2 linked regions of the Homo sapiens genome follow. Each later gene encodes a partner of the first gene's protein in a complex. Each region holds a gene or a part of one and is shown on either strand. Other genes may lie near its edges. The genes, in order: MALT1 and BCL10. A codon is read from its position in the direction of its gene.

Region 1 (12,444 bases):
TATTGCCCTTTCTGCAAATTGGACAGTTTCTTCAGAATTTACAACTTCTGTTTCAATGTAGGAGCCAGGTGGGATGCTTTACGCAGAGACAGGGATGGGTGGAGACAGACAGAAATACATGCAGTCTCCCTATAAAGGTTCTTCAATCCCATACCTCAATGTATACAAATCTGTAAAAATGTATACATGGATAAACATACATCAAATAGAGAAATCCCAAAGTTCACTTTGGGGAAAAAAAAAAGAAAAAGTTGCCAACCAGTCTAAGCAATACTGAAAACCACTGTTGTCTCAAATAATTGATGAATCTCTTACCTTTTTCTTGTTGCTTTACCATTTTTAAAAAATGTGTCTGAAGTTTTACAACCATTCCTGGATGTGAAGTGGAACGATAGTGGTTTGGGGCATCAGCTGGGGTAGGTCAGGGGGATAGGAAAAGCAGAGGAGAGTCAGTGCCACCTGGAGAGTTGATTGAGCTGAGAGGAGAAGTGGCAGCACCTGTGAGTTTTGAGATCTACTAGGTATGTTCTAAGATAGCACTTTCTAAAGGAAAATCCATAGAACACTAGTTCTGGGACACACTTAGCAAAAACAGGCCCAGTAAGTAAAGAAGTTTGGAGACACTCTATATACCGGTGAAGCCACAACATATTGCAGTTTCTTAAAGGCTCTGAGACACACAGAAAAGAAACCTGAAAAACTTTAACACAGCGTTTACCAAATTAGTTTTGCCATGGAGCTCTTTTTGTAAGTAATGCACTAATAATGTGTTTCAAGGAACTGGTGTTCCCCAGGACATAACTTGGGAAATTTTGCTCTAGAGCAACTGGATACTCTTGCAACCATTGTTCTTATATCCCTGGACCTTCAAACCCTATTATTATTATTTTGAGACAGAGTTTTGCTCTTGTCACCCAGGCTGGAGTGTGATGGCGCAATCTCATCTTGGGTCGCTGCAACCTCTGCCTCCCGGGTTCAAGCGATTCTCCTGCCTCAACCTCCCAAGTAGCTGGGATTACAAGCATGCATCACCAGGCCTGGCTAATTTTTTGTATTTTTAGTAGAGATGGGGTTTCACAATGTTGGCCAGGCTGGTCTCAAACTCCTGGCCTCAAGTGATCCGCCCGCCTCGGCCTCCCAAATTGCTGGGATTACACGCATGAGCCACCGCACCCGGCCCTTCAAACCTTATTCATTCCTCCTAGTGTTCCAAGCCCTCATTCAACCACAGCTTCTCACAACTCTCATTTCCTTTTATTAGCCACTTTTCTTTCCAAGACAATGTCTATCCCATCCCTTGAATGCCACATATTAAAATCCACCTCCTGCACCTTTGCCCCTTCTCATTTCCCCCACTTGGAACATATCCATCCCTTCCTTCAAGATCCAGCCCTAAACTCTGACTATAGGAAGCCTTTTCTGAAGAAGTCCACTTACATGGAATGTTCAGTTATTTAAATTCTGCTTTATTTAATCCTAGTGTATCACAGAGAAACTGCTGGTGATACAGTTACATGAATCTTCTCTTGGGAATAATTTGTCATCTCTACCTTTCATACTTACTCATTTAACAACCAGGCTAAATCTAATACCATTGCCCTCTCTACTGCACGTTTACTATATTCCATACACCAGAAATGTTTGTTTCATTTCCTTCTGACTAAACCAAGTAGAATGTAGAATAACACATTTGAAAGTTGGCTGAGGCGGGTGGATCACCTGAGGTCAGGAGTTCGAGACCAGCCTGACCAACAGGGTGAAACCCTGTCTCTACTAAAAATACAAAAATTAGCCGGGTGTGGTGGCGCATGCCTGTAATCCCAGCTACTCAGGAGGCTGAGGCAGGAGAATTGCTTGAACCCAGGAGGCGGAGGTTGCAGTGAGCTGAGATCGTGCCATTGCACTCCAGCCTGGGCAACAAGAGCAAAACTCTGTCTCAAAAAAAAAAAAAAGTTTAAACATTCTTTAAAGTATAGTGATTCATGCAACCAGGCACAGCCACAGACTAGTAAAAAATAATCCCAAATATTTGTTCAGTTTGCCCCTCCTCTCCATGCCCAATGTTGTGGCTCTTGGTGGAGGCCTTTTTTTCCCATCTACATTACCAGAATACTTCTTGGACTTCCACTCTTTCCCCTCCCCACATTGCTGCCCGAGAGATGTTTCAAAAATCCAAAAGTGAAATCACTATCCTGCTTAAAATATTTCAATTACTCTCCATCACTTAAAGCAGTGTTTCTCAAACTGTAAACATTTAGCTTTAGGGGTTTTGACATATCCACATACCACCTGTTCTCTTGGGTATTTAATATACTTCCTTAAACAAAATCAAATTTTAACAAGTAAATTTGATATAGTCCTAATCAATACTATTAGTTGAAATGGCAATTTTGATTGGCAGCTATTTTTCTTTTCTGTATTAATGTATAACTATTAAGATAAAAATGTTCATCCATGTTATGACTTAAAAGCATCTTGTATAACACCAGTGGGGCATAGATGGCTCTGTGGTAGGTATGTATCTACAGAATAAAATCTCAGCTTTTGGCATGACATAATCTGGTCTTCACTGCCTTTTACATCGTGGTCTCTGTCCCTTTCCCATCAGTATCCCCAGCTCTCCTGGAGCAACTGCAGTTCTCCAACCTTGCTGTGATGTTTTCTGGCTCTGTGCTTTTATAGTATGGTATTCTTTTTTTTTTTTTTTTTTTTTTGGAGACGGAGTCTCGCTTTCTCACCCAGGCTGGAGTGCAGTGGCACGACCTCGGCTCACTGCAACCTCCACCTCCCGGGTTCAAGCAATTCTTACTCAGCCTCCCGAGTAGCTGGGATTACAGCTGCCTGCCACCATGCCCGGCTAATTTTTGTATTTTTAGTAGAGACAGGGTTTCACCATGTTGGTCAGGCTGGTCTTGAACTCCTGACCTCGTGATCCACCCGCCTTGGCCTCCCAAAGTGCTGAGATTACAGGTGTGAGCCACTGCGGCCAGCCTACAGTATGGTATTCTTTCTACCCTGTTTCCCAAGCCATCTCCTCTCATCTTTCCACATGGACTGAAGGGCTCTCCCCTGGATTTGTATACTTCTTGCTATCAACAGAGCACTTACTCCTCCTGTTCCTTGTCTTAAGCAGACATCGGGTTTGGTCAACATTGTATTCTGCAAACTCTAAGGGAAAACTGGTGAAGACCGAACTGTGGTGTGGGAATCCCGCCTAGCTCATCTGCCTGGGTTGTCTTTATCTTTGTCTCATGACTAGGCTACTTTACAACTCTGAGATCGCAGTGAACTTACAGAAAACTGATAGTGATGCAAGTGAATCTTGTTTATAATTAAATAAATTGTCAGGTGGAGGTTCAATTGCATTCCCTCCTCCACTGTGGAAGAAGCTAGTTTTGCATCTAGGAAGCAACTTCATTTCAGTGGGCTGACATATTTATCTGGTCTTTGGGTTCTCCTCTGAAGTAATTGTAACACCTTTCTGATTCCCTTGTTAGTTAATGAGTTAAAATCTCTGATATGTGTTCATTGCATATTTGTTGCATCATGATTTAAACTTTCTTGTAGAAACTATTCTTAAGACCGGACGCGGTGGCTCATGCCTGTAATCCCAGCACTTTGGGAGGGCCGACATGGGTGAATCACCTGAGGTCAGGAGTTCAAGAGCAGCCTGGGCAACATGGTGAAACCCGTCTCTACTAAAAATACAAAATATTAGCTGGGCGTGGTGGTGTGCACCTGTAATCCCAGCTACTCAGGAGGCTGAGACAGGAGAATCACTTGAACCTGGGAGGTGGAGGTTGCCGTGAGCCGAGATCGTGCCATTGCACTCCAGCCTGGGCAACAAGAGCATAACTCCGTCTCAAAATAAATAAATTAATCAAATAAAAACTATTCTTTAACAGTATGTATTTGATACAGAGCCTGGTGCCCCAAGAATATGTGTTCATGACGGAATGAATGATTGAGTGAATGAATCAATTTAGACAAGTAGGTGTAGACTTTCCATGGTCAGGATCAAATATTTAGGTCTGGATGATTCATCATGAAGGAAGAGTGTGGAATACTAGCATGATGCCTAGCTACTATTACAAAGTTGAAATCGAAATGAGAAAATTTCCCTAATCCTTTGGAAGATGGTGGCAAGAATGGGCTGCAGGGGATGTGCTGAGCCTGTGTCTGTGGGTCACCTGAGTGGCTCCTACAGAGGCTGAGTCAGAGAGGTCACAAAGTGGGCTGAGCATGGAATAAGGGATGGCAGACAATGAATGCCTTTTTTTTTTTTTTAGACAGAGTCTTGCCCTGTTGCCCACACTGGACTGCAGTGGCACAATCTCAGCTCACTGCAACCTCCGCCCCCTGGGTTCAAGTGATTCTCCTGCCTCAGCCTCCCAAGTAGCTGGGAATACAGGCGCGTGCCACCACGCCTGGCTAATTTTTTTTGGTGTATCTTTAGTAGAGATGGGGTTTCACCATGTTGGCCAGGCTGGTCTTGAACTCCTGACCTCGTGATCTGCCCGCCTCAGCCTCCCAAAGTGTTGGGATTACAGGTGTGAGCCACCACGCTCGGCCATGAATGCCATTTAAGCCACATAACTCCTGCTTCCTTTCCCTCCATTGTATACAGATCCAAGGACCAGCAGGTTTTCTCCTGCACTGAGTCTTTTAAACCCTGTCCAACTGTGAAATAATATATCATTCTGGCGTTTTTTTTTTTTTTAGTTGGAGTACCATCTATAGTTAAACTGTATAAAGGAAAAAAATCCTATGAGTCAGTTTCCAGACCTATGAGTGCTTTGAAGATTACATCAATGGAGTTCCATATATTGAAACCACAAGCTTCCTGCCAATTGTCTGGATTTACAAAGATCTATTTCACTTTGAACTAATGAGGAAGAACTCCCAAGGCTATTATCTATAGACATGCATGAACTTTTAAGGGACATTTAAAAGCCAGATCTTTACCCCCAATTTTTCTCCTATCTTTATATAAACATAACGGTTAATATAGAAAAGAAAGCTGAATTACTATTTACATTGTTCCCAAAATTGATGTAGCAGTTTTAAGAGTACTAATATACAATGCACATACTTCTCCCTGACGCTATATAACACTATTAGGTACTATTATTTTCCACTTTTTACAGGTGTGGAAACTGAAGCTCAGAGAGGTTAAGTAGATCACCTAAGTTCCACCACTAGACTAGTAAGTGGCAGCAACATCAAGTTTCCAATTCAGGACTAACTTTAAAGGTCACATTCTACTATACCATTATGCCCATAAGAGAACCACAGGAGTGAAATTATGTCATAGAAATATTAACATTTGATTGAGGAGAGAAAAAGACCAGTCAAAAAAGGTAATGTCAGTTTGGGTAGAGGATGGAGGGTGGCGGGTAGTGACTGGATAGGGTATAAAATTGCTAGGTGGAAAAAAAGGTTGGGAGTAGGGTAAAACGAGGGAGGCAGTCACTTGGGAAGCCAGGGTGGGGGCGTACAACTCGAGGTCAAAACAGTGCCCAGCTGAGCTATATTGGCTAAGAGTAAATAACACTGGCACCCATTTAACTCGTATGCACACGAGAGGTTGCATAAGCAACGCTTTGTACATGGCAGACTTTTCTAAGAAGTCTAAATTTAGAAGACCTCTGTTGAATTTAAATTAAAAGGCAGGATTCCAGTAAAGACTAGAAGATTTTATTTCCATAATTGGCACATGCAGGTAACAGATCCTCAGAAAATATTTGTACAGTAATTGAGGACAAAACAGGAAGGCACCTGAAGCGGTTGGGAAAGGCTTGCCAAGTCAAACTGAGTATGAAACGGCACTTGTATGTGTAAGGGTAATAGCATTTACTGAGTCATCTACGATGTGCCAGTTACCGAGTTAAGTGCTTCACATACATCAACTCCTTTAATTCTGGCAACAACTCTATATAAACTGTATTGTCAGTCCTGTGTTAATAGATGAGGCAGAGAAATTAAGAAACTTATTCAAGCTCCTAACACTTGAATCGAGCAGATCTTTCATGCTCTTAGCCATCTCACTGCAGTCTGAATTCTTAACTTATGCTAGAGTGAAGTTTAATGACTGCTTGTGCTAGAATGTGGTGGAGACTGTATGGCGCACCTACCTCGCCAACATGTATAAGAATATAGGTATCCAAATTACTGGTCAGAAAATCCTGCGGCCTTGGGTGATGAAAAGCTAATGGCAACAGAAATTGGGCCAGGAAGCCTCGTGTAGGGAACTACCTGACTGGTCACATTTCGTAAGTTACTTCCTTTTTGTCCCAAACGAAGCCATAGTTTTCAAAGGGATAATGGCCTTGGATGTTGCTAAGATTGGCAGAGAGAGCTCAGGTGTCGTCCATTCCGGATCATTCCAGGGAAAGGCATCCTCTACAGGGTTGCCTGCTTTGATGACGGAGATTGCGGGCGGCAGTCTGACGCGGTGTAAACCAGATGATTCCTGCTAAAAACAATCATTTCCAAGATCTGATTAGCCCTAAATATGCCACAGCTCAGTTTGCAAAGTAGTAATTGTTTAAAAGTCTAGGCAAAGATTTTGGCCAATTCCAACTCAAGTATCCGGATCTCCAGCACTACTTCCCTCTAGCAATGCCATACACATCTAACCCTAAAACGAGGAAGCGTCCGCTGAGGTTGCCCACTGCAGGATGCTGGTGTGTCGCCGGGCACATGAAAGTCCCTGAGTCAGGGGAGAGCGCTCGCCGGGGACTGCGGGCGGGAGCCGGCGACTGAGAACCGCTTGCCCCGCTCTCTGGCGTGAGTACGCAGGCCTCCTCCCACGGTCTCAGGAAGCCCAGACGCCGCAGGCTTCCCCGCCGTAGAGGAGCTGCCGGGGCGTAATTCCTCCACCGCTTCCTCCTCCAGCTGCACCCACCCGTCCTTTCCTGCTCGGGAGGGCTGGGTTTGAAGCGCGCGCCACGGCCAGCCCGGGACCGCGGGGGAGGGCGAGGGAGGCGCGCAGCCGCACGCACGCAGTAGGCAGCCCCGCCCCGCCCCTCGAGGCCCAAGGTCCCGCCCCTCGAGGCTCCGTGCCCCGCCCCCCGGGTGCCCCGCCCCTTTGCGCGGCTGGCGCGGCCAGCAGGCCAGGCTCCCCTCGGCAAACCTGTCTAATTGGGGCGGGGAGCGGAGCTTCCTCCTCTGAGGGCCGTGCCGCGCTGCCAGATTTGTTCTTCCGCCCCTGCCTCCGCGGCTCGGAGGCGAGCGGAAGGTGCCCCGGGGCCGAGGCCCGTGACGGGGCGGGCGGGAGCCCCGGCAGTCCGGGGTCGCCGGCGAGGGCCATGTCGCTGTTGGGGGACCCGCTACAGGCCCTGCCGCCCTCGGCCGCCCCCACGGGGCCGCTGCTCGCCCCTCCGGCCGGCGCGACCCTCAACCGCCTGCGGGAGCCGCTGCTGCGGAGGCTCAGCGAGCTCCTGGATCAGGCGCCCGAGGGCCGGGGCTGGAGGAGACTGGCGGAGCTGGCGGGGAGTCGCGGGCGCCTCCGCCTCAGGTGAGCTCAGGGCCGCGGCAGGCCGGGCGCGCGGGTCGAGCGGGGTGGGCTGCGGTGGGGAGGTGGGGGCGCTGTCGGTGGGGCTGAGCGCGGCGGGGGCCGCCGGCGTGAGTGAGCGGAGGTGGGGAGGACTTCGGTCATTGAGGCGGAGCGGAACTCAGCAGCTCCCCGGAACGCCTGGGGTTTGAGAGCGGGGCCCAGGGCTCTGGAGGGTGGAGGCAAAAGTGGCCCAGCGGCTGCCTCGCTCCCTGTTCCCACCCCCGCCCCTGGTGAAAGGGAGAAGTCGAGGTTGACCCCGGAGGATAGTGAGAGAAGGAAAGCTGTCAGGGGACCCCTAGGATGGGGCAGTCATCCAGAGGACTTAAAATGCAAAAGAAAGGGATGTGGACACTGCTCTGGGAGACCTAAGGAAGGCTGGGAAGAAGCGCAGGCGAGGTGATGAATGCAGAGGGTGGGGTGCAGGAATTCATGAACATTTTGCAAGGTATTGGGAAAGACTGACGCCGAACTCATCATCTCCCTCCATCAAACCAGGTTACCACGTTCTCTTCTTGACTTCACCATGAACATGAAACTCGAAGTAAAACTATTTTCCTTGTTAGGTTTGGAATGGCTGTATTAGGGTTCCTGAAGTTTTGGTCTCGAGACTCCTTTACCCTCTTAAGAATTATTGAGGACCCCAGAGAGCTCTTATGTGGGTTAGAGATAATACATACATGTAATACATACTGATATTTACCACCTTTGAAATTAAAGCTAAGACATTTAAAAAATATTAATTTATTTAAAAAGAATAACCCATTATATGGTAACAGAAATAATACTTTCGTGGAAAAACAAATTTTCCAAAACAAAAAAGTCTATTAGAGAAGTGGCATTGGTTTTCATTTTGAAGATCTCTTTAATGTCTTGGCTTAATCACAGAGCTGGATTCGTTTATGTGCTTCTGCATTCAGTCTGTCGCACTATTACAGGTCACAGAACGCTGGAAACTGCAGTGTCCACTCCTGAAAGAATGAATGAAAAAGCTAAATAAAGTCTTAATATTGTTATGAAAAATCTTTATGACCTTGTGGACCCCGCGAAAGGGTCTCAGGAACTGCACTAGGGGTTCCCAGACCCCACTTAGAACCATTACTTTATACCATTGTTGTAACTTTGGCCTGCCTTTGAACCCCTTAGCAGTTTTTTGAACTTCTCAAATGACAAAGATTTGTCTTACAGTATAATTATTTGTACACATCTTTATAAATGCCTTAAGAACAAAAACTGTCTCTTAATATTCTGTTATGTATAGAGGTTAGTAAATACTTGATGAGAGGAAAGTCATTCATTCAAAATGGTATTTATTAAGTGCTTATTATTTGCTAGAAATTTTAGAAGATAAAAAACTAACAAATATTCAATTCCTAATCATAAGGGTTTATCCAGGAATGGACTATTATTTGGGGACCTTTACAATAACATATTAAATGCTGTGTTGGGTATGAATGATAATGGATTTTTATCTTTTATTGAGGACATGGTATGTACCACAAAATATACTAAATGTTTACATGCTGCTGCTGCTGCTTCATTCTTCTTTATTCTTCTTATTTTTGCATTATCTTTTTTTTTTCCGAGATGGAGTCTTGCTCTTTCGCCCAGGCTGGAGTGCAGTGGTGTGATCGTGGCTCACTACAACCTCCGCCTCCCAGGTTCAAGCAATTCTCCTGCCTCAGCCTCCTGAGTAGCTGGGATTACAGGCGTGCGCCACTACAGCCCGCTAATTTTTTTGTATTTTTAGTAAAGACGGGGTTTTGCTGTGTTAGCCAGGCTGGTCTTGACCTAAGGTGATCCAGCCGCCTCAGTCTTCCAAAGTACTGGGATTACAGGCATGAGCTACCCTGCCTGGCCACATTATTTTCTTAAACCCTCCTGACAACTCTTGTTTCAGAGTTTGGGATTGAGGCAAAGGATAATAGTGACTTGGGATTATTGCTTGTGCAAAGGAGTAATGATGTGAGGAGGGAATAACTAGCAAGGCCTAGCAGAGAAGTGGCATAATTTTTTTCTGTTCTAGGAAAAACACGTTGGGCTTTTGGATATGCAAAAAAAACAAATACAAAATATTGTTATGCTAGGTACATAAAATTTTGAATTTCTGGACTTACCATAATGTAAAAAATTGTCTTTGGGGGCAGATCTCCAGAGTATTACGGTGCTAACGAGTACTCTGGTTAGGGAAGGTTCTGGGCTTCCTGAAGAAAGCCAGGTATGGAGGACTCCTACATGGCCATGAAGGAGAGAGAAGAAAGTCAGCAAGGCCCTGCCAGGGAAGAAGCGTGGCTGCTGGAATCCAAAAGCAGCGGATACTTGATGTTGGGTGTTGTGTTTTCCTCGCCTGCCTTCAGTCAGTTTTTGTTAAAGGCTACAAAATGGTCTTAGCTTTGTTTGGGGGAACTAAAGGAAATATTTGAGGCCACTTTTCTGTGGAGTCACACAGAGAGAAGGGGACAGTTGCCTAACAAGAGGTGGCAAGCACAAAGGGCATGCAGTTGTGGAATCTGAGAATTTGGGGTGGGAAGTCTGATGAGAGGCAGATGAGTTTCACCTGTCTTTCAAGATGGTAAAGATTAGTTTTGAGGAGGTTGGCTGGGGTGAGAAGGGTTGGAGAATTTGGGAACGTTAAGCTCATCCCTATGGAGATCAGAAGAATTAAACGGACTTTTTTTCAAAAAACAGCACTGGGAGCTTGGGGGCTGGACAGTGAAGCAAGGTCAGCTGGGGATGCTTACTCTATTTAAGACAAAAAAGTTATTGTAAAGTGATTTCATGCTGTTGGGAGAAGATCTGTGATACTAGAAGGTCCTAAAGGTATTTTTTCTCTGGTGCCAAAGACAGGAATTATAGTGTGAGTGTCTAGTCCGTGTGGGTGACAAGTCCCACGAGGCTGTGAAGTGCTTTCTTCAGTCACTGGATCTGCAGCCCTAGAATCTCGAAATGTTGCCCATTCTGTTTCTTTTTCTTCTCTTCACTTTTTTTTCTGACACTTTACATCTTTCCTCAAACTGGGTGAAAATTTAATAATACAAATAAGTAAACCACAAGAAAAGAGCCCGTTCAAACTGTCTACAAGAGATTAGAAATAATTGTAAATGTTTTCATTGCTGATGACTCAGAGTAAATCCTTGTTGATAGCTTAGTTCCCCACAACCATGTACATTTGGGAATGTGCTATAGTCAGACCCGGCCCTGATTCCATTCAAGACTGACCTGGACACCCTTTGCTGTTAGTGTAGATAGACACAGACTCTGAGGGTCTTGCCCAAGCTATGTAAATTCTTTGGTGGCATGGAACATCTGAGCCCTAAGGATGGCAGACCTTCCAGGAGGTTCTAAATGCTGCCTAAAATTCTGTTAAGTAGGGAGCTTAGAAATGGGGCTGTGGAACCTGGACCATGGAAAAACAGTCATTGCATACCTGCTGAGTAGAAGGTGCACTTTTAGCTGCAGAAATCCTGCTTTCATGCAGTTTATTATAGGAATGAGAACGTGTAAAAGGCTCTAACAGAAGGTTTCCTCCCAGCCTGGGAAACATACTGAGACCCTGTTTCTACAAAAAAACAAAAAATTAGCCAGGCATAGTGGCACAGGCCTGTAGTCCCAGCTACTCTGCAGGCTGAGGTGGGATTGCTTGAGCCCAGGAGTTCGAGGCTGCAGTGAGCCTCAACAATTATTATTGAAATTCATTCAGTAATCATTCATTTATGAATAATTAATATGGACAAGACAGAATTTTATTGATTTAGGTATTGTCAACCTCCAGCATGGTCGACAGAGAAGACCTTGTCTCTAAAACAAATAAACTAAAAAAGGTTTCCTTCTCGCCCTCTTGGTCTTATCCTTCAGTCCCATGACTTTACATTTATTTGGGTTGATTACTCCTAATTTCTATTTCCAGCCCATTTCTCTGCTTTGAACTCCTAGATTCACGTATGTAAACACTTGTTTGCCATCTTCTCTTGAATGACTAAGACACGTCTTAAATATAACATGTCCAAAATTTAACACGTCTTCCCTTATAAACCTCTTTCTTTCAGTTTCTGCACCCTCTGGTTGTTCAGTCCAAAAACTTCGAATTCATTCCTGACTCCACTTTTACACACAAATCGTTTTTGTCAGCCCATCCTTCCTGCTGTACCTTCACTATATATATGTAGAATCCAATGTCCACTGCTGGCACGCTGGGCCAAGCCACGTTGTCTCTCAACTAGATTATTCCAGTAGCCACTTAACTTCTCCCTGTTTTGCTTTGCTCCCACCCCAGTCTGTTACCAATATAGCAGTAAGAATTATTCTTTTAAAACATCACATCAGGTCTTATTCCTCCTCTGCTCAAAACTCTCCTATTGTGGCCAGGCGTGGTAGCCTCACACCTGTAATCCCAGCACTTTGGGAGGCCAGGGTGGGAGGATTACTTATGCCTAGGACTTCAAAACCAGCCTGAGCAACATAGATAGACCCCATTAAAAAAAAATGCCAACTCTCCTATTGTTTTTCCATCTCAGAGTAAAAACACCATTAGCTACCAGTTCACTCTTCAACCTGATATCTTCTTGTCTCCATCCCTCTCTACTCTGGTCACATGTGCTTTCTTGCCTTCCTTTGGACACAGTAGTCTTTGTACTTGCTGCCTACTCAGGCTGAGATGGTCTCCACAGGTAACCACATGACTTGTTCACCTCACTGAGCTCTTCTCTGATCATAATATTTAAAATTACCCTCTACATCTGCTCAGTGTTACCTGTCTACTTGCGTTACCTCCACAACACTTAAGACCATTGGTTAGTTGGATACATACACAAAAAGATATCTCTGTGTTTATTTAAATTTATGTCTGTACTTCTCTAGAATGAAAGATCCAGGAAGATACAGAATTTTGT
Region 2 (11,477 bases), on another chromosome or scaffold:
GATCCTCCAGGTCGGAGGAGCGGAAAGTCCTAGCACAGGAGGACTGTGGCGAGCCCTGCATCCGAGGGACCTTGGTGGCAGTGATCCTCCAGTGATCTGTCAATCCAGGTTTTACATCGCTAAACGCAGAGCTTGGGCTTTGTTGCCAAGTGGTGTTTTGATTCTTGCCCACTCCTCACCCATCTCCTCATGCTTTCCCCCCAACTGGGTTCTTGGAGATGCTTCGTTAGGGACTGGCGGCTCAGATTCATCCTTAAGTCAGGCTGCCTAGGCTGCTCACTCAGCCTAGAGCGAAGGCTGTACCAGGTGAAGGATCCCAAGCAGTGGACCAAAAATGTGAAGCTCTTTTGCATAAGGGGGCTTGAGGAAGCTCAACAGCTGAAAGCACAACCTGGAATTCCCCTAGTAAGCAGACGCCCACATATTTAAATTGGGGTTGGGGGAGTGAATACACGTAGCTGAGAATTAATGTACAGGTAAACGTCGAAAATATTCAGTAGCTAAATTATGCTCTTCTCGGATGGTGCAGAACCACATAAACCTTCATATTTATTCGTAACGAATGGCTTTGTTGAGATATGACATTCTTTTTCCTTTGCGTTTACTTGTTTTGTCAGATGAGACCTATATGAGTATCACTAAAATACTTTATCTGAAGTCAAATGAAAAACAGAAACTCAACATGAAACGTGTTCTTATTGAACACTGCAGTACTTTTACAAAGTCATTTTGATGAACTGGACAGGATGGCAACTTTTTAAATGTTCATCCACTTCAAATCCCTTCCTCTTCCCTGTAAGGTTTATTACACTGTACTCACAATTGGTGTGACTCACCAGCAGAAGGAAACTGGATATGACTGGGAGTTGTGCTTAGTTTCCTCATTCAACAGAGATTTATGGAGCACTTGCTATATGGAAAGCACTGGCCTTGGGTCTGGAAGGATACAAAAAAATGAAGATCAGTTTCCTGCTTTACATTCTAGTTGAGATAAGAATGGAACATAAATAACTACTGTAGAATAAATGTTGTCTTATTCATGGTGAGTGCCAGTAAAACCTTGAACTTCCAAGAGCTAGGCCTCCTATGTTCCAGATGCTGTGTCACACAGTTTACAATGTTCCCACTTAACCTTCGCAACAACCTCTAAAGAAGATAATTGCCATTCCCATTTTACAGCTAATAAAACAGGAACTGAGAAATTACAAGTGGAAGGAAATAAGATCTGTATACAAGTACAGATGTGAAGAGTGGCTTCCAGGTCTTTGTTCTTCTCTGTCAATTCATTGATGTTATCTGTCTTCAGGATTTCATTTTACGCCTATATCAGAAATAAATAACCTTGAGGAAACCATGGATGGGTTTCAAAAGGTCTATGAAAGAAACTATGTGCATGCTTTTTTCTTAGAGGTTTTTTTCATGATATTTTCAAAATGTCTTCTGATCTTAGAGAGTTTTAAAATTATCCACATATTTGGACTTTTCTCTCCACTCTAGGTCCTTATTTCCAAATGTCTACTGGAAATCTACTTTTATATCCTACAGATTGCTCACCTTGTCAAATATTGAACTTTTACTATCCTTTTCCCAAAGTTGCTTACTGTTGCTGCTGTATTGCCTTTCTTGATGAATGGTGTGCTACCACCCTTTGTCTTGGGACCTCCCACTTCTTTAGTGTCTCCCCCTCCTCCTATCTAGTTATTTGCCTCATTGTGTTAGTTGGATTTAGTACAGTTTAATAAATATGGATTACATGCTACTGTGAGGCTGATACTGTGGTTGGTTCTAACAGTTCAAAAATTAAAAATGAAAACACAATCCTAACTTGAAAAGAGCTCAATTTCTTGAGGGGGATTGTTTTAAATCACAAAATAAGTGCAGTGAGTTTTGCATTCAACTGAAACATTAACTACTTGGTGCCCTAGTAAGTGCAGGATATACAGTGTTGGCTAAAACATACCTCGTAGCTGCCTGCTTCAAACAGAGACGTTAGTTTAAAACAAATAAATAAATTTTGTTTTCATTATTGCAATTACTATGAAGGAATCAAACAGTGCCAAGACAATAATAGGGGAAATCGACTTGAGATAGGATGGTCAGGAGAGGTTATATTTAAACTGATTCCTGAAAGATTTGACAGAACTGAGGGAAGAGCATTCTGGGCAGAATAGAATTTGTCAAGGACCTAAAATAGGCAAGACCCTGGTGACTTGGGGAAATCGGAGGAAGGCAGAGGGTAATCTGAAGTGAAGTTAGGAAGGTGGGCTAGAGCCATTTTCATGAAGAGCCTTTTAGTAAAGTATCTGGGGTTTTTTTCCCCCCAAGTATAGTAGGGACTTGTTGAAGAATTGTATAGTTTAAAGATCCCTCTGCCTGTTTCATGGACTGAGGAGAACAAGAATAAGAACAGGGAAGCCAGTGAGCAGGCTCTTGGAATCTATAGAGATGAATGAGGATGGTGATTTGGATCAGGGTGAAGGCAGTGGAGATGAATGGAGCAGAATTCCAGATGCAGTTTTTGAAATAGAAATGATATGACCTGGTGATGGATTGAACATGGGAGTTGAGGAAGAGGATGTAATTAGATTAGTACATGGAAATGTCAGATCAGCAATTACATCTGCAAAGTCAAAGATCAGAAGAGAGATCTGAGCTAGAAATGTAAGTGTGGAATTGAATGATTTTACCTAGAAAGCTGTGAGCTAGAAGAGAAAAATGGTGTAAAACCCTTTAAAGAGAAGAATTTTAAAAAGTGAATTGTTAGCTTGAAAGTAGGGTAACAACAACAACAAGAAAATGATTGAAAAGTTGTATCCACAGGGATGGGAAGAAAACCAGGAGAGTGTGGTATTCATGTAACAATTTTCTTGTTTCAGGGAGGGAGTAGTCAACTGTGTTTATGCAGCTGAAAAATGAAATGAAGACTGAAAATATTTGGCAATAAGGGGGTCATTGGTGACTTCGAGAAGAATACTGGGGCAGGATGGAAATGTCTGGGAATGAATTGGGAAATGAGGTGAAAGAAGTGGAGTCCTGGTGTATAGAAAGATGAAGTGTATACACAAGGTGCTACAAGGACAGAGGACGGGGTGCCTAACTCATTCTGGGGAGTTAGGTAAACCTTTCCAAAGAAGATGACCACTGACCTAAATCTTAAAGGACGAATAGGGGCTTTAGGGTCTGATAAAAGCAGACAAAAAATACGTAAGGAAATGTAGAGAGACAGATAGTTTTAGGTAGAGCATAAATTTTCAGGACAAAGGTAGTGATAGATTAAGCTGGAGAGGTAGGTAGGAGCCATATTATCAATGAACCTTGTCTTCCATAATTAGTTATTATTGAGTACTTACTGTGTACAGAGACTATGCGTGGCCTTCATATATAGTATTCCCATTTAGTCCTCCTTGATGTCCTGTGAGTTAAGTTTTTAATCCTTATTTTATCAATAACATACCTGGAGCTTGGAGTGGTGAAGTAACTTGGCCCAGCTCTCACAAGGGTGAGTACTAGATTCAAGATTTGCACTGAGGTTGATCCAACTTTAGAGCCATGCCCTTAACTTTTCTACTCTTCTGCCACGTAAAGGAACTTTATCCTTTAAGACAGGGCAGAACATTGTTTTTAATTTTTTTTCTAAATTAACAAAATTTCAATATTAGAATTTGCTGGGCACAGTGGCCCACACCTATAATCCCAACAACTCAGGAGGATAAGGTGGGAGGATCACTTAAGGCCAGGAGTTCAAGACCAGCCTAGGTAATGTAGCAAAGATCCCTTCTCTACAAAAAAAAAAAAAAAAAATTAAAAATTAGCCGGGCATGGTGGCTCACACCTGTAGTCCTAGCTACTCAAGAGGCTAAGATGGGGATCACTTGAGTCTAGGGATTCCAGGCTGCAGTGAGCTATGATCAAGCCACTGCACTCCAGCCTAGGTGACAGAGTGAGATCCTTAAAAAAAATTTAGTAAAATTCATATAATACTCCAGATTTCCATTTTCTCCTGAAGGAGAAATGTTGAGGAGGGGGAAGGAAGTAGTAAGTGCAGCTAGGTTTCTATTGTTAATAGTCCATGCCAGATATGATAAGGACCAGGTCCTGGACATAGTTATTTGCTCACTCTGTGCTTTTCCTGTATTTGACCTATAATCTTTTTTTTCTGGGCCCGATCACATTGTTTTATAATTATTACCTGTGATATGTATTCCCAGCTAGACCATGAGCCCTTTGCATGTAGGATTCAAATCTTGTTCATCTTTGTATACTCAGTGCTCAGCACTCGGCATATTAGGAATTTAGATTTGTAAAATACTTGTCATGTGAATAAACAAGTAAATGTGGAACTTCGTAGACCAAGAACCACAGGAACCCTTCACCTAGCCTACTTTCCTGCCATTACCTTTGTCATTATTACTAACATATATTGATCACTTACTATGTACCAAGCGCTTTTCTAAGCACTTTGCATATCTTTATTCCTCATATAACAGTCAGCTGAGGAAACAAGCACAGAGGAGTTAATTACTTGCCCAAGATCATATATCTAGTAAATAGAGGAGCTAAAATACAGTCACCGGTACCAAATTATTAATGCCATTTATTGAGATCAACATGGATTTTCTACTAATTAAGCTCTTAGGCACTTCTCAAATCTAGGTTTGCTTTTTTGTGGTGTCCTTTTTCTTTATTTCTTTCATTTTTCGAACACTCCCTATTCCCCACACATCTTTCCATCTCCCTTCCACCAAGACTGATTCACTGAGTTAGAGTGTAGTCTTTCCAGCTGACCCCAAAGACAGATACATTATGGGCTCTTTCAGTTTAGGGTTTTGTTTTTTGTCTTTAACAGTTTAAGGAAATGGAGTAATTAATAACAAACATGAGAAAGTTACAGACTGTGAGACCTCTCACTAAGTTATTGGTCCTGACTAATTCTGCATTCCTTGCCAACTGATAGCTAAAATGTACAGTAGTGTTTGCCCTCATCTTTACTCCCGAAGATGGCCCTCAACAGACCTCCCTGTTTCCAAGGACCCAGGCCCTCTAGATTCAGCTGGTCCCTCTTCACAACAGCCTGGTCTTGGTTTTTAGGTTTGAAGGTGAGATCAAAGCAGTGAGGAATGTCTAGGACCTACTTGTGTCTACTTGGACTTTCATCTTAATTAGCATGCATTTTAGAAGGCCTGAGCCTCCTGACTTTAGAACATTGTCTCACACCAGCTAAGACTGCCAACTAATAGTCACGTATGTGATTTTCTTAGATGTTAAAAATAACATTGAACCATATTTTATGTCTTTTAGGCCTTAGAAAATTTACGTGTATACCTGTGTGAGAAAATCATAGCTGAGAGACATTTTGATCATCTACGTGCAAAAAAAATACTCAGTAGAGAAGACACTGAAGAAATTTCTTGTCGAACATCAAGTAGAAAAAGGGCTGGAAAATTGTTAGACTACTTACAGGAAAACCCAAAAGGTCTGGACACCCTTGTTGAATCTATTCGGCGAGAAAAAACACAGAACTTCCTGATACAGAAGATTACAGATGAAGTGCTGAAACTTAGAAATATAAAACTAGAACATCTGAAAGGTAAGATATCTTAATTATCTAAGAGCTAATTTAAATGTAATAATGCTTTTAAAAAATGCAGAGCAGGCCAGGTGCCTGCACTTTAGGAGGCCAAGGCAGGAGGATTGCTTGAGGTCAGGAGTTTTGAGACCAGCCTGGGCAACATAGCGAGACTTTGTCTCTACAAAAAATTAAAAAATTAGCCAGGCATGATGGTGCATACCTGTGTTTCCAGCTACTCAGGAGGCTGAGGTGGGAGGATCACTTAAGCCTGGGACATTGAGGCTATAGTGAGCCATGATTGTGCTACTGCACTCCAGTCTGGGCAACAGAGCAAGACCCTGTCTCAGAAAAGCAAAACAAAAACAGAAATGATCATTTTGCTTTCAAAAAGTTTAAACTTCAAAATTATATTCAATTTGCACTTATTTTACCTTATTTGACACTATTACATTGAAAAAGTGGAATATCTCTCAATATCCTGTATTTGTATTCATTTAATACCATTTATAGAAAACTATTATGAAATCCCTGCATACATAAGGATTTGTTTCTAAAGTCAGTAGAATGTAAAGTTAATCTATTCAAGAGTAAGCTCTGAAAATACTGTACATCACACATAAAGAACAGTATTTAGGCAAAGTATTGTAAAAGTCCAACTCTGCTAGTTTTTCTTATGATCACCAGTTGATCACAAGATGAAGTAATTGGCATATGTTTATAGGAATCACGTTGCATAAAATATTCATGACTTTAAACTAGTCTGGCAAGATGTGAAAGCATGGAAACAGATTAAGAGAATAGCAGATTCACCTGTCCCATTTCACTCTCACTCCAGAATATACACTCACTGATTGGAATATTGTGTGGAATTGCCTACACAATTTAAATCCCCAACCCCCTCCTGCCTCTGTTCCTCACTGTCTCTCTCCAGAGCACATAAATGTGCATGTGATGTTCTACAGCTCTTCTAGGCATTAGGGATACAGAAAAGAATAATTTAGGGCTCTGCCCTTAAGGAACTCATAGTCTATAAGTGTCCCCTTGCTGGGACACATTACAAGTTTTCCCTTTTGAGCCATATCTAAGAAAGTAGTTTGTATAGCATGGAATAGACATGCTGACTGTACTGTGAGGTTGAAAAACTAGTGGAAGAAGTGACATGTAAGTGCCCTTTATAGACTATGCAGGTTTTGCCTAAAAATTGTCAACTCAGGGTTTCTGTGCCTGTAGGTTGAATATTTGCTAAGCCTAACAGAAGGGTAAATTGTGTTTGTGTTTATTCTTTCAATCCTCTGGATAATGGTTAACTATACCCTTTGGATATCATAAAATTCTTTGATGGTATCTAAGTTGTTTTCTGCTGTAGCAATACCTGAGACTGGGTAACTTTTAAAGAAAAGAAATGTATTCATTTCTTACAGTTCTGGAGGCTGGTTAAGTCCAAGACCATGGCGCCAGCATCTGGCAAGGGTCATGCATGGTGGAAGGGCAGAAGATGGAAGAGCAAGGGAGGGCAAGAGTGTGAAAGAGAAGAAAAAGGAGTCGAACTCCCAAAATAACTAACCCATTCCCGTGATAATGGCATTAGTCCAGGGCAGAGCCCTCATGACCCTGTTGCCTCCCAAAGGCCTCAGCTCCTAACACTGCTGCAGTGGCAACCAAGTTTCCAACATGTGAACTTTTGGCGGATACATTCGTACCACAGCTAATGGGAACAACCACTGTCATTTGAGTAAACTGTGAGGTTGAGAAACAGGACATTATCTATTGAATTGTAGTTCTCACTTTCCCACAAAGTAGTCCTGGAATGTTGGACATGACTTAACTGTCCTGTGCCTTTTTTTTCTCTTTTTTTTTTTTTTTTTTTGAGACGGAGTCTTGCTCTTGTCACCCAGGCTGGAGTGCAATGGCATGATCTCAGCTCACTGCAACCTCTGCCTCCCAGGTTCAAGCGATTCTCCTACTTCAGCCTCCTGAGTAGCTGCGATTGCAGGCACCTGCCACCACGCCTGGCTAATTTCTGTATTTTTAGTAGAGATGGGGTTTCGCCATGTTGGCCAGGCTGATCTCAAACTCCTGACCTCATGATCTGCCCACTTCGGCCTCCCAAAGTGCTGGGATTACAGGCGTGAGCCACCATGCCCCGCCCTTTTTTCTCGTCTTTAATAATAAGAGACTATCCTAGGTGACCTCTAAAATTCCTTTTAGTTCTAATATCCTATTATTCAAGAATTAGCCATTGTCATTGATCAACAGATAGAATTTTAGCATCTGCCGTTTACATTTTTTTATTAGCTAATATTTTTTGTACCAGAATACTAAAGAATATTTATTGTGAAAGCTATTTCTTATTTTATAAAAAATTTTAGGTGGTTAAGTTTATATGTACGCTGTACCTTAAATGAGAATTACAGCATGTCGTTTAACTTCCACGAGACTATTTTGTTATATAGAAAATGCAAATAATAGTATACTTCATGGTTGTTGAGAAAAGCAAATTAGATTTGAAATAGATTATGACGGAAATTACAAGTTGCTATTTAAATTTTGATTGTGGGGTAACTAGCTTGTAATCTTTAACAAGTCACAAGATGGACAGTGACTCCATTTTTTTAGTTACTTTTTCATTTACATCTGAATAATTTTATTGTAGGACTAAAATGTAGCAGTTGTGAACCTTTTCCAGATGGAGCCACGAACAACCTCTCCAGATCAAATTCAGATGAGAGTAATTTCTCTGAAAAACTGAGGGCATCCACTGTCATGTACCATCCAGAAGGAGAATCCAGCACGACGCCCTTTTTTTCTACTAATTCTTCTCTGAATTTGCCTGTTCTAGAAGTAGGCAGAACTGAAAATACCATCTTCTCTTCAACTACACTTCCCAGACCTGGGGACCCAGGGGCTCCTCCTTTGCCACCAGATCTACAGTTAGAAGAAGAAGGAACTTGTGCAAACTCTAGTGAGATGTTTCTTCCCTTAAGATCACGTACTGTTTCACGACAATGACACTTTATTGCCTTTTAATTTTTAATGATGACAAAAAATGTTTTAAAGAATATGACTTTTTATAAAATGGCTGTAATCATTTGTTTACATTTGATGCATGTCTTTTAAAATGCAATGTAAGCATACTTTGTAAATAGGATTTTTAGAATTAAAAAAGCATACTTCTAGGATAGCTAACTGTAAATCATGTTGATCATGTACTTTTTAGTAATTTCTTTTTTTCCTTTTTAAGGTCTTTCAGTACTTTTTTAAATATTTTCTATTTTAAGACTGATTTTAATAGGGAATATATCTCTATTTGAGAATAGACCCTTACTAGGAAGAACGTTTTTTCCTCAGTGCATTTGTGCTAGAAATTTTCAAGAGTCTAATAGTCTTTGCCAGTCATTCAGCAGCAAATTTTCAGCATTAAGCTGTTCCTGTTCAGTAATAAAACCGGTCACTGATGGGAAAACTGCCAATATAGAAAAATAAAAATCTCTTTTCCACTCCATTGTCGTATAGGCATGTAAACAGCCTCTTTTTGATACTGGAGGAACACTTGATGGAGTGTGAGCCACCTAAGATCTCGGTTTGCCAAAATTCATTTCTAATTAACCTTACTAATTATACTACTTTGTTAGGATTTTCACATTCTTGGCTTAATCATTTTCATTCCTAAAGAAAAATATCTTGGCCTAAACCTCAGTTATTACATGTAATTTGATGAGGTATTTTTTCCTTTTTTCTTTTTTTTTTTTTTTTTTTTTTGAGACAGTCTTGCTCTATCGCCCAGGCTGGAGTGCAGTGGCGCATTCTAGGCTCACTGCAACTTCTGCCTCCCATGCTTACGTGATCCTCTCACCTCAGCCTCTCAAGTAATATAGCTGAGACTACAAGTGTGTGCCACCATGCCTCACTAATTTTTGTATTATTTTTGTAGAGACGGTGTTTTGCCATGTTGGCCAGGCTGGTCTTGAACTCCTGGACTCAAGCAACCTACCCAGCGTGGCCTCCCAAAGTGCTGGGATTACAGACACGAGCCACCTCACCTAGCCTGATGAGATTTTTAAAAAATATTTTCTCTGTACTTTTCATTCTCTTTTAATGAGGACCAATGTACAGTTGAAATAACTGGAACAAATTATTTTTGGTGTGTGTGACAATTCTGTTTTTAATGCTATTTGAACAAGTGGGCCATTAGCCAGATTTGTCTTTTTGTTGTAAAACAAAATTTGACTAATTTTACATGTTTATAAATCTTATGCTCTCACTGTTTGTTTTTATTTAAATTACAATTTTATCTGTTTCCTGACATTGTCTCCTATATATTTCTATTATTAATTGCAAAAACATAGAAATGGAAATTTTGCTATCAACAATAAAATTTTTTTAAAGTAGTGAGTGCTATTTTGGAGTTCCAAATTTTCAGTAGGAAGTATCTAAAACTTTTTTTAATACGTGCCATTATCTATAGAAAACATTACTTCAGGTTGTGAGATTGAGTTGCATTTCTGGATGGACTGATGAATTTATCCGACATGAAGAAGATTGGCATATTAGCTTTAAAAATTTTTAAAGATTGGATTTTTTTTAGTATAAGCACTTTCTAAGGATTATAGAGAAATGTTTCACCTCCAATGCATAGCAAAAATAGTGGTGTTAGAAAGAAAATAGGTTACATTTAAGGAAGGTGCTTTAAAAAGCAGAAGCAGACTTTAAAATTAAATTTGTGGACACCTTTTTAAAAATTGAATCAAAGATTATAATTTAGATATACAATAACACCTATATATAGATAAGTTTTAACACTGAGTTTTCTTTCAGACTGTTTTCTAACTACATAGACAATAAAATTAAGCTTTGCATAAAGCTAGGTTTGTGGGTTTTTGACTTCTACAAAGTCATTTTTTTTCCTTTTAGCCCTGAAAACTAGCCATTGCCAAAAGTGTGTAATTTAGGATGACTTGACAGGATGCAATTTGTTAACTAAGTTCATTAATGCAGCACAGAAAAAGTTACTTTTCAGGGATACCATATTATCATAATACAAAAACACGTTAGTTCATTTTTATGTATATGTATATATTTTTAATACTTTATTTTTGGAGCAGTTGTAGGTTTACAAAAAAGCAGAAAATACAGAGTGTTTCCAAATACCCCCTTCTCCCTCAGTTTCCCATACTATCTTGCACTGATGTGGCACATTGGTTATAATTGAGTCAATGTTTTGTTTTGTTTGGGGTTTTGTTTTTTGTTTTTTGTTTTGTTTGTTTGTTTTTTGAGACAGAGTCTCGCTCTGTCACCCAGGCTGGAGTGCAGTGGCGCGATCTCAGCTCACTGCAAGCTCCGCCTCCCAGGTTCATGCCGTTCTCCTGCCTCAGCCTTCCGAGTAGCTGGGACTACAGGCGCCCACCACCGTGCCCGGCTAATTTTTTGTATTTTTAGTGGAGACGGGGTTTCACTGTGTTAGCCAGGATGGTCTCAATCTCCTGACCTAGTGATCTGCCCACCTTGGCCTCCCAAAGTGCTGGGATTACAGGCATGAGCCACCACACCCGGCCAATCTTTTTTTTTTTTTTTTTTTTTTTTTTTTGAGATGGAGTCTGGCTCTGTCACCCAGGCTGGAGTGCAGTGGTGCAATGTCGGCTCACTGCAACCTCCACCTCCCAGGTACAAGCGATTCTCCTGCCTCAGCCTCCAAAGTAGCTGGGATTATAGGCGTGTGCCCCCACGCCTGGCTAATTTTTGTATTCTTAGTGGAGACAGGGTTTCACCATGTTGGCCAGGCTGGTCTTGAACTCCAGACCTCAGGTGATCCACCTGCCTCAGCCTCCCAAAGTGCTAGGATTACAGGTGTGTGCCACCACACCCAGCCTGATGAGTGAATCTTGATACTATTATTAATCCAAAGTCCGTT

What was found.
Region 2: the proteins of MALT1 (region 1) and BCL10 are in contact, whole or in part, in a cryo-EM structure (PDB 6GK2), measured with the Homo sapiens proteins. Residues at the interface, in NP_006776.1 of Homo sapiens: Asp46 (codon at 7,446), Gln47 (codon at 7,449), Ala48 (codon at 7,452), Pro49 (codon at 7,455), Trp54 (codon at 7,470), Arg55 (codon at 7,473), Leu74, Glu75, Ser78, Leu79, Val81, Leu82, Glu83, Pro84, Glu85, Gly86, Pro88; in NP_003912.1 of Homo sapiens: Leu13, Lys17, Val83 (codon at 5,488), Arg87 (codon at 5,500), Asn93 (codon at 5,518), Gln97 (codon at 5,530), Thr100 (codon at 5,539), Leu104 (codon at 5,551), Arg107 (codon at 5,560), Asn108 (codon at 5,563), Leu111 (codon at 5,572).

What each region holds. Positions count from the first base shown.
Region 1 is NC_000018.10:58,664,334-58,676,777, forward strand, and holds the start of MALT1 (mucosa-associated lymphoid tissue lymphoma translocation protein 1), read left to right. Parts: upstream 1-7,131; 5' UTR 7,132-7,310; coding exon 7,311-7,519; exon of another isoform or gene 7,520-7,540; intron 7,541-8,279; exon of another isoform or gene 8,280-8,526; intron 8,527-12,444. UniProt on the Homo sapiens protein: Protease that enhances BCL10-induced activation: acts via formation of CBM complexes that channel adaptive and innate immune signaling downstream of CARD domain-containing proteins (CARD9, CARD11 and CARD14) to activate NF-kappa-B and MAP kinase p38 pathways which stimulate expression of genes encoding pro-inflammatory cytokines and chemokines.
Region 2 is NC_000001.11:85,264,728-85,276,204, reverse strand, and holds the end of BCL10 (B-cell lymphoma/leukemia 10), read left to right. Parts: exon of another isoform or gene 1-189; coding exon of another isoform or gene 190-405; exon of another isoform or gene 406-1,039; coding exon of another isoform or gene 1,040-1,042; intron 1,043-5,298; coding exon 5,299-5,587; intron 5,588-8,222; coding exon 8,223-8,578; 3' UTR 8,579-10,429; downstream 10,430-11,477. UniProt on the Homo sapiens protein: Plays a key role in both adaptive and innate immune signaling by bridging CARD domain-containing proteins to immune activation.